Linked DNA regions of Homo sapiens: region 2 is linked to region 1. Evidence: fine-mapped expression QTL. Tissue or cell type: lung. Region 1 holds a variant in brackets; the other region holds the start of a gene. All regions are shown on one strand. Distances are from middle to middle.

Evidence for each region. PIP is the estimated chance that this variant, and not a neighbour inherited with it, causes the effect.
Region 2: it holds the start of CATSPER2, and the variant in region 1 is fine-mapped to the expression of CATSPER2 in lung (TOPMed, PIP 0.92).

Annotation. Positions count from the first base shown.
Region 1 is chr15:43,328,715-43,336,767 of GRCh38, forward strand. LCMT2 (leucine carboxyl methyltransferase 2) reads right to left here and starts at 1,859. Exons shown (of 1, transcript NM_014793.5): 1 at 1-1,859. The coding sequence starts at 1,775. It overlaps MAPDA (N6-Methyl-AMP deaminase), which reads left to right and starts at 1,958. Exons shown (of 13, transcript NM_001324366.2): 1 at 1,958-2,145; 2 at 3,186-3,286; 3 at 4,597-4,720; 4 at 6,231-6,456; 5 at 6,982-7,112; 6 at 7,912-7,972. The coding sequence starts at 6,394. RefSeq lists enhancers at 1,767-2,717, 1,950-1,999. The variant T/G (reference allele first, on the strand shown) is at 2,485.
Region 2 is chr15:43,646,300-43,652,826 of GRCh38, forward strand. It overlaps CATSPER2 (cation channel sperm associated 2), which reads right to left and starts at 2,545. Exons shown (of 13, transcript NM_172095.4): 1 at 2,330-2,545; 2 at 1,618-1,764; 3 at 995-1,168; 4 at 751-819. The coding sequence starts at 1,762. It also overlaps the pseudogene PPIP5K1P1-CATSPER2 and the pseudogene PDIA3P2.

The DNA of each region.
Region 1 (8,053 bases):
TGAGCTGTGTGGGAGTACCTTGGGGTAATGGGAGGCTGGATGTCTACTGACTCCCAGAGGAATCCACAAGAGATTGGTCTCAGAAAGAGCACAGAGTTCAATGGCTCCTCAGAAGCCCCGAGACCTCCAGCAATAAGGGCTCCCCCTTGCCAAGTGCAGGCACTGTGAGAATGCCGGGCTTCAGGTACTTCTCCCTCCACTGGGATCCTGACCCAAGCCATTGTCCCTACATGGAGGAAATGCCAGTCACTTAGTACAGGTTCCACCACGCTTCGACCCCCATACACAAACAAATATTCCTGATTCTGACAGGACACTTCTGTTGTTGAATGCCGCCAACAACACAAAGTGGAATCATCCTTTCGGCCAGCCTTTGTTATTGTCACTTTCAGGTCCTCAGTGTTATTATCCTCACTCTTAAAAAAATGAAGCTGGAGAACCCCCAAGGCTGGACTTACTGGGGACAGTCTCCCTCCCAGAACCAGAACCCGACTCTCTGAGAGTCTTGTCATGGTGTGATAAAGGCGTCCATCCCACTGAACTCCAGTCCCACAACTGCCTATTTGGCTGCCTTTCCATTCAGAGTCACAATCTCTTGAGAGCAAGTGAAACTGGCTCACTCGGCAGTGCCGCCCCTCCTGCTCTCCAAATCCTCCTGCACTGAGAATAACGTCTGGGCTCAAGAAGACAGAGGCGTGGCCATATCTCTTCAGGTTTGGGACCTGGCCCTCGCTACTGACTACGCTGGCAGGGAATACCCCTGAAGGCGAAGCAGGATTTACGCGAGGAAATGCCTCTGAGGATGGAAACACTAGGGTGTGGGAGAGGGTGTCTCCCCTAGAAGCTGCCAGAATGAAATAATGGGCGCACTTCAGATGCCACTCCTCAAATTCGTCAAAGGGTTCAATATTTTCCACCCGCCGGCGTTCTTCTGCGGGAAGAAAGCAGTGATAGAATTCATTCATGTCCACGGCACCGCAGGCGGTCCAGCCAGCTTGAAGGAAGCGGCGCCGCTGCGCCTCCACGTCAGGAAAACGCTCCAGGCCATGCAGGGGGGAGTTTAGCTGCCGAAAATGTTGCAGCATGAACTGGCCAAAGGCGTCTTGAGGCCTCATCTGCTCATAGACCACGAAAAGGGCATTAGGAAAACGCTGGGCTGCCCAGGCGATGAGGGCCGCGGCACTCTCCGGCTCGAGGTAGGTCAGCACCGCCTCGGCCAGGAGCAGAGTGGGTGAGGCTGCGTCGAGCCCCGCGGCGCCCAGGGCCTCCTCCACTCGCTGGAGCTGCCGCAAGTCCAGACCCAGGATGCAGTAGTCTGCGCTCTCAAAGCACAGCGCGGACGCGGGCTCCCCCCTCTCGAAAGGCCCGGTTAACGCGCACAGCTCTGGCGTCTCTCCAATCCTTTCTGCTTTGCGCCGCGCCACGTCCGGAAAATCCACCTCCCAGACTGCAGCCCGGGCCAGGCGGCCCGCGGTTTTTAAGCGAAAATAGAGCGAGTCGAAGCCAGCGCCGAGAGACAAGATCTGCGCGCGAAGCGCGGCCTGGGGCGCGCCAATCTGCTCCAAAAAAGCGCGCACGCAGTGCCTCACGGCGCGTGCGCGGACGTAGTAGCCTCGGTGAATGAGCGGTGCGCGGCGCGCCGCGCCCGGAACCAGCAACGCGGCAAAGGGGTCCTGCACGTACCCGCGCGCGGCCAGGGAACGCTTGCTGAGGGCGCTGCTGTCGTTGGTGTTCTGTACCGCGCCTGCCCGACGCTCACGGCTCCGGGGGCCCATGGCCAGAAGAGACTCAGGAATGGCAGTCTGTCACGGTTGTGAGCCGCCCCTTGGTTAGCACACACCTCACGGACCTCGGTAGGGGGAAAAAAACCACCCATGCTCCTGGACTTCCCCTTCCGCCGGCACTTGTGCGTCACTTCCGGGAAGAGCGCATCTCGCCAACCAGAATTGAGGAGGGTGTAGCCAGTGCTAAGTTCGCTTGCGGCTGACCTTTCTTTGGAATGTCGTGAGTTCCATTTGTCCCAGAATACGGTCCGCTACCGCTGTGACATGAGTGTTAGGGAAGGCGGGTTGTCACGTTTCTACAAGCCTTCCAGTCAAAAGGGAAACCTTGCCTAAGTCCTTGTAGTTGAGAAATCTCTAAGAGGTGAGTCTGTGGGGACTGACGACTTGGCTTCCTTGGACCGCCAAGGAAGGGTCTGGTAGGAGCCAAGAAGGGTCGGCACCACGGACCTTCAGTAGGCAAGGATTAGTTAGCTTCCTTGGGTGCTAATAGTTGCTGATTTATTTAATGCTCTCACAGTTGCAAAAGAGAACCCCATTTAAAACTTGAAAACAAGTCACTAAGGCCAGGGTGCAAACTGAAGAAACCGACCTTTACAAATAATTTATAGACACCTAACAAGAAGACGTTTCCCCACAGATAGTAGACTGTTGATTCCCTTGTATTCCCAGCCCTATGTTAGACTGACGGTGAATAAACCAC[T/G]CAGCCTCTCTTTCTCATCACACCGCCTTGGAGAATTCTGTGGATTTTAAAGTAGTGTTGAATATGTCCCCAGAAAGGGGAGTCACTGAAGAGAGGTGATTGTTCCCTGTGATATGTTCTGAGCTTTGTTTTTAAGGAGTAAATCCAGGTTAGACTTCAGAATAATCATAAAGTTTCTAAATTGGGTGTCTGGGAGTCATCCATAGGAAACCACTTCCAGAGACATTTAGGAAATTTATCATTTGTTCACTGGGATTTGGTGACTGACTGGCTGAAATAGAAAAGGAAATCAGATAACTTTATGGTTAACTACAGGTGGTACTGCATAATGGTTAAGAGTGTGAGTTTTGGAGTCCAGCAGATTTGGATACTGGAGTCAAGAAAAAGTTTCGTATTTTCCAATGTTTTCTTGTGGAACAAAATGAAATAAGAAAGAAAAGGTTTGGATCAGGATAAAGATTCGGTAATTGAAAAGTGACATTTAGATTTGGTGTTTAAAAGCTCATTAATGGCCTTAGGGAGAGCAGTTTCTGTGGAGCAATAAGGGCAGAATCCATGTTTCAGTGAATAGGAGGTGAGTTAAAGGAGGTATCCAGTCTAAATTATTATACTTTCGAGGAGCTTAACTCAGAAGGAAAAAAGGGTCAGGGCAGTGGCTAAAGAATATTGTGGGATAAAAGAGTCTTTTGTTTTGTTTTCAGGTGGAAGCAAATACTGCACATGCGTGTTGGTCCTGTGAGGGAAACCAGCTAGTGGAGAGGGAGAGGTTGAAGGAACAGAAAAATGAGAAGACAACTCACTGGTAGAGTAACTTGGAATAGATAGAAATGGGATCCTGGGCACGTATTAGTTGTGGGGATAGGAGAATGAATCCTTTATCTGTGACTCCTGATGGGGTAAAAAAAAGATTATGGATAATCATAAGCTCAGGTGTGAGGTAGGGCAGAGAGAAAAAGAAGGAATTTGCACCTGATGGCTTCTGTTTTCTCTGTAAAGTTGGTGACAGAGTTGTCAGTTTAGTGTAAGGCATTCAGATCTGATGGAACATTTGAGCAGTTTGAGAATTGCTTCTGAAGGGATTAGAAGAAGGGCTCACCTATGCCTGCTGGGTCAGTGGATCCTCACCTCTAAAATGAGATTAAGTACTGCTTCGTGAGGTATCTCAGGGTTGATTGAGGGGCAAATAGAAAAAAAAAAAAAGTTGAAGGACTTTGAAAAATACGTAGCACCATAGAAACAAATTTATTTAATGACAGGTTCCTAAAATGTAGGTGTTATGTCAAAAATACTACTTGTTTTGCAAAGACCAGATCAAGAAAAGTAATTAAAGAAGAAAGAGAATGGAGTAAAATTTCTGATTTCGATGCCTTATGATTTAGGCCGGGGGAGGAGGGGCCATTGTTTAAATCTCAGTTTATTCTTATATAAAATGGGGATAATAATATCTCAGGGGTTGTTGTGAGGATTTAAACAAAATAACTATCTAAGACACCACAGTGCCTGGCTCATGGTAAGTGCATAATAAACAGTAACAAATTTTTTTTTATTCTGAGTTCCCTTTTGGGGGAGTAGGTGGGAGCATGAAAAAAGTTCCCTGGGAGACAGGATACTTGCTTCTGGCCCTGCTCTAATATTGATGAAGTATTACTAACGTGGATCTTATCCCAGTGTTTGTTGCCTTCCGTCCCAGAGCAAAACCAGTCCAGAAAAGTTAAATTTGTCATGGCATGCTGTTGTTGGTATCCATGTTTTAGGCAAGGAACAACAATTTTTTTTAATGTGTAAAGATTATGATTGCTTAGTTGCTTTTTAATTTCCATAGGTTAACATTGTAGCCAGTGGGTCAGTAAATTTACTCACAGCTAGTTAAAGGTCAGTCTGGAGGATGGTTTGAATGGGGCACAAATTAAGGTCAGGATCCTGGAGTAAAATTGAAAATCTGGCCGGGCGCAGTGGCTCGCTCCTGTAATCCCAGCTCAGGCTGGTGGATCACTTGAGCCCAGGAGTTTGAGACCAGCCTGGGCAACATGGTGAGACCCCGTCTCTACAAAAAAAATTTTATATAAAATTAGATGGGCATTGTGGTGCATGCCTGTGATCTCTGCTGCTTAGGAGGCTGAAGTGGGAGGATCGCTTGAGTCTGGAAGCTTGAGACTGCAGCAAGCTGTGATCGTGACACTGCACTCCAGCCTGGGCAACAAAGTAAGATCCTGTCTCAAAAGAAAAAAAAAAAAAGGTATGTTTTTCCATTTTAATTAAATCATTTATGTTTTTCGGTAGAGATATTAAATGCCATTGATTAAATAGTCCATCTTTTTCATTTTTTACTATTTATTAAGCACTTACTATGGCATTACTTTGAAATGCCATGTTTATCTCATACTAAGTAGGCCTTTCTATGGATTTCTATGGCTATGTTTAGTCCTATACAAACTACTTTCTTTATTGTACATTTTAATATCTTGGTAACTTATTTAACCCCACTCAGTATCAATTTATTGATTTTCAATACAGTAATATTTCACAAAGTTATTTCAAGGATTAAAGATAACATTATTAAAAGCGCTTGTCACATACCTGTTAGGTTCCAAATACATGGAAACTGTTATTCTTAAACATCATCCTCATTAATACGTGAGAACCCAGAGAGTCAAGGTGGCTAGTTTGAAAATCACTAAATTTCACTTGGAATTTTATCTTCACTTATAAACCACTTTCAGAAGTGAAGGGAAATTATGATTGATTTATCACCTACAGTGTGCTAGGCACTGTGCTAAGTGTTAGAGTGGTGGAATAATTCAAAGGACCTGTCCTCAAGGAACTTACAGTCTGGTGAGAGAGAAAGACAAGTATATCAGTGATTGAGATATCAGTGTGATTAAATGCTGAGTTAAAGGCAGTGACTGGCTCATGTGGGAACATAGATGAGGGGAATTTAAAATACTTTATTAATCGTCACTGCTACTTTGCATTTTTAATCCCATTTTTGTAAATAAAGAAACTGAAGCCATGAAGGTGAGTGACTAAGGCCACACAGCTTCTAACCTGTAGAGCTGGTAAAAGGACAAACCTAGGTCCATCTAATGCCAGCACCTCTGTTCTTCTTTTATATATTTTAAACAATTCAAAATTTAAAATTTTATTTTTGGCCGGGCATGGTGGCTCATGCCTGTAATCCTAGCACTTTGGGAGGCTGAGGCGGGTGGATCACTTGAGGTCAGGAGTTCGAGACCAGCCTGGCCAACATGGTGAGACCCTGTCTCTATTAAAAATACAAAAATTGGCCAGGTGTGGTGGCATGTACCTGTAATCCCAGCTACTTGGGAAGCTGAGGCAGGAGAATCACTTGAACCCAGGAGATAGAGGCTGCAGTGAGCTGAGACCATGCCAGTGTACTCCAGCCTGGGTGACAGAGGGAGACTGTCTCAAAAAAATTATATATATATATATATATATATATATATATTTTATCCAAAGTAGGCCTTATAAAATTTTGAATTTTTGAAGTCGTTGTATAGAAGGTGCCAATAGTTAAGGAATATACTCTACTAAATGTCAGGTTTTAGTACACCTCTTATAAGCTTGAGGTCTTTTCCTGTTTCCAGTTTATGTTGTTTACTAATCGTTTTCCCACCTTAGACACACTTAAGTTAGTTTTAGAGGAGCTTTTGCCTTTTAAAGAAAAAATTAACAAAATCCTGTTTCTTTGCTTTTACATCTGAAAATATTAACATTTGTTAAAATAGGTGAAGCTGAACCCAGATCTACACATACAGCTAATCTTACCAAAATGTGTGGAAGTAAAGCAATCTGAAGGAAATTCAGTACCATACAATTTACTGACTGAAATACATCATATTGCTCATACTAAGAATAAGAGTGGAGAAGAATCATTTTTTTCCTGCTAAAATGATAGAGGCAGAAGAGCAACAGCCTTGCAAGACAGACTTCTATTCTGAATTGCCAAAAGTGGTGAGAATTCAACTACAGAAATCTTGAGTGGTTGCTAATTATAATGACTTTGATGTTGCTTCTTTTCATCAAAGTAAATTTTGGCTGGGCGCAGTGGCTCATGCCTGAAATTCTGGCGCTTTGGGAGGCCAAGGCGGGTGGATTCACCTGAGGTCAGGAGTTTGAGACTAGACTGGCCAACATGGCAAAACCCCATCTCTACTAAAAATACAAAAATTCGCTGGGCTTGGTGGCATGCCTGTAGTCCCAGCTACTCAGGAGGCGGAGGCAGGAGAATCGCTTGAACCCAGGAATCGGAGGTTACAGTGAGCTGAGATCGCACCAGTGTACTCCAGCCTGGGTGACAGAGGGAGACTCCATCTCAAAAAAAGAAAAAGTAAATTTTGTAGGCAAAATTTGTAAACTTTATTATGTAGCTAAATCTAGTAAGCAGTTTGCCTATTGCAAACTACCAACATTAAGTACTTGGTAAGATGCTATGAATCTATTGGATATTTGATAAGTTTTACTGGTTGTATCTCTTAGGAACTTCATGCCCACTTGAATGGATCCATTAGTTCTCATACCATGAAGAAATTAATAGCCCAGAAGCCAGATCTTAAAATCCACGATCAGATGACTGTGATTGACAAGGGAAAGAAAAGAACTTTGGAAGAGTAAGTGTGGGGAGGTTGTGGACATACTCCTTTTTTTCTCTATCAGTATTTTGAGATTGTAAGTAGTATGTAAGAATTCAGATTTTGGTAAACAGAAATAGGGTTGGCATGTGGTGTGGAGCATATATCTTAACATACAACATTTTTTTCCAGCTGTTAGACTGTTGACAGTATTTCTAGTGATTTCTGTTGTTTGTGAAGTTATATTGGGATATTCTTTCTTTTCTTTTTTTGAGACAGGATCTCACTTTGTTGCCTAGACTGGAGTGCAGTGGCGTGACCACAGATCACTGCTGCCTTGACCTCTGGGGCTCAAGCAGTCCTCCTATCTTAGCATCCCAAGTAGCTGGGACCACAGGTGCACGCCACCATGACTGGCTAATGTTTTTTTAATTTTTTTAGAGATGGGGGTCTCCCTATGTTGCCCAGGCTGGTCTCAAACTCCTGGCCTCAAGCTATCCACTCGCCTTGGCTTCTTAAAGTTCTGGGATTACAGGCATGAGCCATTATACCCAGCATGTGATAGTCTTTAGATTTGAAAATATAGGCATATTGAATTTCCCCATGTCAGGTGTGGGTTGGAGAAGGGGTACTATTATTTCCCACTTAAAAATATCAGTAATGTTTTATTTTCTATCATTTGATTATCTTTCCAGATCAATGTAATTTTTGAAACATCTATTCTGTAGTTCTTTGTAAATATAAATATATATTTACTATTAGCCTAAAATTTAATTCATTCAGTTAGTGAGTTTCTTTGATGACTAGATTATGTTAAAACTTTTCATTCATGTTGCAGATGTTTCCAGATGTTTCAAACTATTCATCAGCTTACTAGTAGCCCTGAAGATATTCTAATGGTAAGACATGAAGGAATTTTTAGAATGGTTTAAAAATTATGAAGTAATTTCCTTCCATTATTGCACATGGCCTTTCATTTT
Region 2 (6,527 bases), 320 kb after region 1:
TTTTGAGATGGGGTGCAGTGGCGTGATTTCAGCTCACTGCAACCTCGGCTTCCCACGATCAAGCGTCCTCCTGCCTCAGCCTACTGAGTAGCTGGGATTACAGGTGCCCACCACCACGCCCAGCTAATTTTTTCTATTTTTAGTACAGATGGGGTTTCAACATGTTGGCTAGGCTGGTCTTGAATTCCTGACCTCAAGTGATTCAACCACCTCGGCCTCCCAAAGTGCTGAGATTACAGGTGTGAGCTACCGTGCCCAGCGAATATTTCTAGATTTTAGCAGTTGCATAAATTCTACTCCAGGAGGCTTAATATAATTGTCCTTAATATAAATGTCACATTTCAAATGACATTCAAAAATGTAAAATGATCAATTTAGAAAAAAAAATTACTCCTACCCACTTCCTCTTTTTCTTTTTCTTTTTTTTTTTTTTGAGACAGAGTTGTACTCTGTCGCCCAGGCTGAAATGCAGTGGCACAATCTCGGCTCACTGAAACCTACGCCTCCTGGGTTTAAGCGATTCTCCTGCCTCAGCCTCCCAAGTAGCTGGGACTACAAGCGCGTGCTACCAAGCCCGGCTAATTTTTTGTATTTTTTAGTAGAGACAGGGTTTCACCATGTTGCCCAGGCTGGTCTCCAACTCCTGAGCTCCGGCAATCCACACGCCCCGGCCTCCCAAAGTGCTAGGATTACACGTGTGAGCCGGCGTGCCCGGCCTCACTTCCTCTTTCATACAAGGTCAGTTCTCACCTATTTCAACCATCAATATGATCGTATTCAAAAAGACCAGGAAGATGATGAAGTTTTTGAAGAGAGGACCTGTTGTCTCTTAAGGAAATGTACAGAGTGGAGTTCTTTCTGATTTATGCAGCTGAAATAATAAGAGCAATAACATAAGCAGTGAAAATGAGACAGTGGAGTATGGGGAGCAAAAAATAAGTCATTAGGCAGATGATCAACAGCCAGGATAAAAATGAGTGACATGAAAGGATACACTCAAGGACCCATCCGGCCCACAAAGAAAGAGGTGGCCTCTGACTGCAGCGCACATGAAGCCTGCTCAACAGCCTCTGGGCATGTGAAATCTGTTCTATACGCTGAGGCTTTATAGAGAAACGCACTAGCTGGTGTTGATCTCCCAATACAAGTTTCTTCTGGCGGGAAGGATCTACAACAAAAATTAAAAAGGGATAGTGGATAAATACAAACAAAATAGACCAGGTAGGGTTGGGGGCAGGGATACTGGTCAGGTAATGGGTTCCCCTAATGCCTTACTGCTAGTCCTTCTCTTCTCACAGCAACTAAGAATTCTGTTTGGAGTGAGAGCAAATGTATTGCTTATGACCAACACTGTCCATGCCCACAAAAGCAGCAGGCTCACTCTCAAAGTTTTAAGAGTCTTTGACAGAAACTCTTCCCAATCATCCATGGCTAGTGGCTATCCTAGGCCTAAAAGTGAAAGACGTGGATTCTATCTCTTCAGTTTTATTTACAAGCCCTTGATTTATCAAGTTTGGTAAACCAGCAACTAAACCTCCCCAGAATTTTCCACTCTTAAATGTAGAGGATGTGGATAGGAGTCTTAAATTTAAATTAGTGAAGAAATAGGCTGCTGACCAAGTAACTCCCTGATAGTGTGCCGCGGCACAGCTTGGCTCAAGCCTTGCAAATGCTCAATGAGAGAGAAAGTATCGATGAGACGTGAACGAATGGCATCAGCTCGGGGAAGCTGCATCTGCTCTTCTTGTTGGTAAGCGGCCATGTCTGCTAAGAAAATGTAAGCATCAAGTGTCATTTCATTCTTGGAGCTGCACCAAGGATTACAGGTTTTCTGTCCCCTCCTCCCCACCCTCTTTACCCTTAAGATTCCTTAATGTACCCACATCTACGAACTAGGAGCAGTTGGGAAGAACAAACATTCTACTAGGACTCAGGGTGTTTTGAAACAAAAGGGGCTAAGTGGTAAAGACATTGCACAGTCGACCAAGCGGCCAGGCATCTTCACTTTGTGATGGCATTTCTAATTAAAACTCATTAAAAACAAAACAAAACAAACAAAAACACCGCAAGAAAAAGGAGCAGCCACAAGGGCAGGGGCCCGGGGCTGGACAAAGAATCTGGGTCCCACCTGTGCCTGAGACAATCGGGCAATGAGGTGGAGTTGGGGGAGGTCTTGGCCTGCTCACGCAAGAGAAACCAAGTGCAGAGAAATTGGACAAAATGCCAAAGCCTGACATTTTGAAAATGGGTCCCGTCCCAAGTGTGTCCACTCCAACACTCCTTCGGGGGCTAGCTCCTTCTCTCCTCCATTCTCGCTTCTGGGCCTCACCTCAGCCCAGGTTCTCTTTGCCCACTCAGTCCTTATTTCACGCTTCCGCCTCCAGCTCAGGTGCCCCGAGCCTGGCTACCCCTATGCAAGACGAGCTCAGGGCCGGCTCCCAGCCTCACTGCGCCCCATTCCCCGCCCCGCTCGACCCCCAGGTTTCGGCTCACCCCGGGACCCGGCCCTAGCCCCTACCCACAGCCCAGGACCATGCGGAGCAACGCTCGCCCAGCCACTCGCCGCCTAGGCCCCGCCCCGCCCCGCTCTCCGGCCACTCAGCGGTAACCAGCTGGTCCCGCCCGCCGGACGAAGGCGACGCGCAGCCAATCAGCGGCTGCCACACAGCGGCCCGAGCCGGGTTTGGGGGTTGGGACCTCCGGCTGCAGGTCCCCTGGGCCAGACGCGCCAGCGCAGGCAGCCGGTTTGTGGTCGCGCGCCCGACCTCCGCAGTCCCAGCCGAGCCGCGACCCTTCCGGCCGTCCCCACCCCACCTCGCCGCCATGCGCCTCCGCCGCCTAGCGCTGTTCCCGGGTGTGGCGCTGCTTCTTGCCGCGGCCCGCCTCGCCGCTGCCTCCGAACTCACGGACGACAACTTCGAGAGTCGCATCTCCTACACGGGATCTGCGGGCCTCATGCTCGTCGGGTTTTTCGCCCCCTGATGACGCCACTCTGCCAAGGCGGGGGAAGAAGGGCCGGGCTGGGCCGGGGCCGGGGGCGAGGGCGCGGGGAACTGTTGGGCCTACGCAGCGCCGGCGCCCTTCATTCCTGTGGGCCCCTGCTGTGGCGGGCACATTTCTCATTCCCGGGAGCTGGAGGTGCCTCGCCGAGAGCGGTGGAGTCGGTGCTGATCGGCCCAAGGAAAACCCGAAGGCTGCGCTCACGCAGGGCCTCATCCTTATCTCGGTGCTCTTGTGGCACTTCCTATTTGCAGAGGGTTTTGCCACCCCTTCCCCCAGTTCAATATGTAGCTATATTGTTTCTGCATGAGTCAGTATTAATGTTACTCCAGTCTACAGACTAGACATCCCAAAGCCTTGTAGTGGAAGCGGACGTTTCACCAAATGCAGAAGTCCTGGATCCCTAGGGTATTTCCTTTCATCTTACCTCACGCCGCACAGCCATTGGTTTCTAGCCAAGGTCACTGAGTGGCTGCAGAATGGTCCTAAGTGCTTTCTTGAGGCAGGCAATTTGTCCGTCACATGGTGTACAGTTTCTCCCTTCAGCTGATCACTTACATCTCAGTACCGGCAGATACCTCTGTCCAAACGAAAAGAGTACCTGAACAAGAATAATTCCATCATAATCTGTCCATATTGTCCATTTTAATTAGGATTTCTTTAAAATGTCAATACTCCGAATAGGAACAGCTCCAGTCGACAGCTCCCAGCATGAGTGACGCAGAAGACGGGTGATTTCTGCATTTCCATCTGAGGTACCCGGTTCATCTCAATAGGGAGTGCCAGACAGTGGGCGCAGGTCAGTGGGTGCGCGCACTGTGCACGAGCCGAAGCAGGGCGAGGCATTGCCTCACTCGGGAAGCGCAAGGGGTCAGGGAGTTCCCTTTCCTAGTCAAAGAAAGTGGTGACAGACAGCACCTGGAAAATCGGGTCACTCCCACCCGAAAACTTCGCTTTTCCGACGGGCTTAAAAAACAGCGCACCAGGAGATTATATCCCGCACCTGGCTCGGAGGGTCCTACACCCACGGAGTCTCGCTGATTGCTAGCACAGCAGTCTGAGATCAAACTGCAAGGCGGCAGCGAGGCTGGGGGAGGGGTGCCTGCCATTGCCCAGGCTTGCTTAGGTAAACAAAGCAGCCGGGAAGCTCGAACTGGGTGGAGCCCACCACAGCTCAAGGAGGCCTGCCTGCCTCTGTAGGCTCCACCTCTGGGGGCAGGGCACAGACAAACAAAAAGACAGCAGTAACCTCTGCAGACTTAAATGTCCCTGTCTGACAGCTTTGAAGAGAGCAGTGGTTCTCCTAGCACGCAGCTGGAGATCTGAGAACGGCCAGACTGCCTCCTCAAGTGGGTCCCTGACCCCTGACCCCCAAGCAGCCTAACTGGGAGGCAACCCCCAGCAGGGGCAGACTGACACCTCACACGGCCAGGTACTCCAACAGACCTGCAGCTGAGGGTCCTGTCTGTTAGAAGGAAAACTAACAAACAGAAAGGACGTCCACACCAAAAACCCATCTGTACATCACCATCATCGAAAACCAAAAGTAGATAGAACCACAAAGATGGGGAAAAAACAGAGCAGAAAAACTGCAAACTCTAAAAAGCAGAGCACCTCTCCTCCTCCAAAGGAACACAGTTCCTCACCAGCAACGGAACAAAGCTGGACGGAGAATGACTTTGACGAGCTGAGAGAAGAAGGCTTCAGACGATCAAATTACTCTGAGCTACGGGAGGACATTCAAACCAAAGGCAAAGAAGTTGAAAACTTTGAAAAAAATTTAGAAGAATGTATAACTACAATAACCAATACAGAGAAGTGCTTAAAGGAGCTGATGGAGCTGAAAGCCAAGGCTCAAGAACTACGTGAAGAATGCAGAAGCCTCAGGAGCCGATGCAATCAACTGGAAGAAAGGGTATCAGCGATGGAAGATGAAATGAATGAAATGAAGCGAGAAGGGAAGTTTAGAGAAAAAAGAATAAAAAGAAATGAGCAAAGCCTCCAAGAAATATGGGACTATGTGAAAAGACCAAATCTACGTCTGACTGGTGTACCTGAAAGTGATGGGGAGAATGGAACCAAGTTGGAAAACACTCTACAGGATATTATCCAGGAGAACTTCCCCAATCTAGCAAGGCAGGCCAACATTCAGATTCAGGAAATACAGAGAATGCCACAAAGATACTCCTCGAGAAGAGCAACACCAAGACACATAATTGTCAGATTCACCAAAGTTGAAATGAAGGAAAAAATGTTAAGGGCAGCCAGAGAGAAAGGTGGGTTACCCTGAAAGGGAAGCCCATCAGGCTAACAGCAGATCTCTCGGCATAAACTCTACAAGCCAGAAGAGAGTGGGGGCCAATATTCAACATTCTTAAAGAAAAGAATTTTCAACCCAGAATTTCATATCCAGCCAAATTAAGCTTCATAAGTGAAGGAGAAATAAAATACTTTACAGACAAGCAAATGCTGAGAGATTTTGTCACCACCAGGCCTGCCCTAAAAGAGCTCCTGAAGGAAGCACTAAACATGGACAGGAACAAACGGTACCAGCCGCTGCAAAATCATGCCAAAATGTAAAGACCATCGAGACTAGGAAGAAACTGCATCAACTAATGAGCAAAATAACCAGCTAACATCATAATGACAGGATCAAATTCACACATAACAATATTAACTTTAAATGTAAATGGACTAAATGCTCCAATTAAAAGACACAGACTGGCAAATTGGATAAAGAGTCAAGACCCATCAGTGTGCTGTATTCAGGAAACCCATCTCACGTGCAGAGACACACATAGGCTCAAAATAAAAGGATGGAGGAAGATCTACCAAGCAAATGGAAAACAAAAAAAGGCAGGGGTTGCAATCCTAGTCTCTGATAAAACAGACTTTAAACCAACAAAGATCAAAAGAGACGAAGGCCATTACTTAATGATCAATTAAGTAATTAAGGCCTTGTTGATCAATTCAACAAGAAGAGCTAACTATCCTAAATATATATGCACCCAATACAGGAGCACCCAGATTCATAAAGCAAGTCCTGAGTGACCTACAAAGAGACTTAGACTCCCACACATTAATAATGGGAGACTTTAACACCCCACTGTCAACATTAGACAGATCAACGAGACAGAAAGTCAACAAGAATACCCAGGAATTGAACTCAGCTCTCCACCAAGCGGACCTAATAGACATCTACAGAACTCTCCACCCCAAATCAACAGAATATACGTTTTTTTCAGCACCACACCACACCTATTCCAAAATTGGCCACATAGTTGGAAGTAAAGCTCTCCTCAGCAAATGTAAAAGAACAGAAATTATAACAAACTATCTCTCAGACCACAGTGCAATCAAACTAGAACTCAGGATTAAGAATCTCACTCAAAACCGCTCAACTACATGGAAACTGAACAACCTGCTCCTGAATGACTACTGGGTACATAACGAAATGAAGGCAGAAATAAAGATGTTCTTTGAAACCAACGAGAACAAAGACACAACATACCAGAATCTCTGGGACA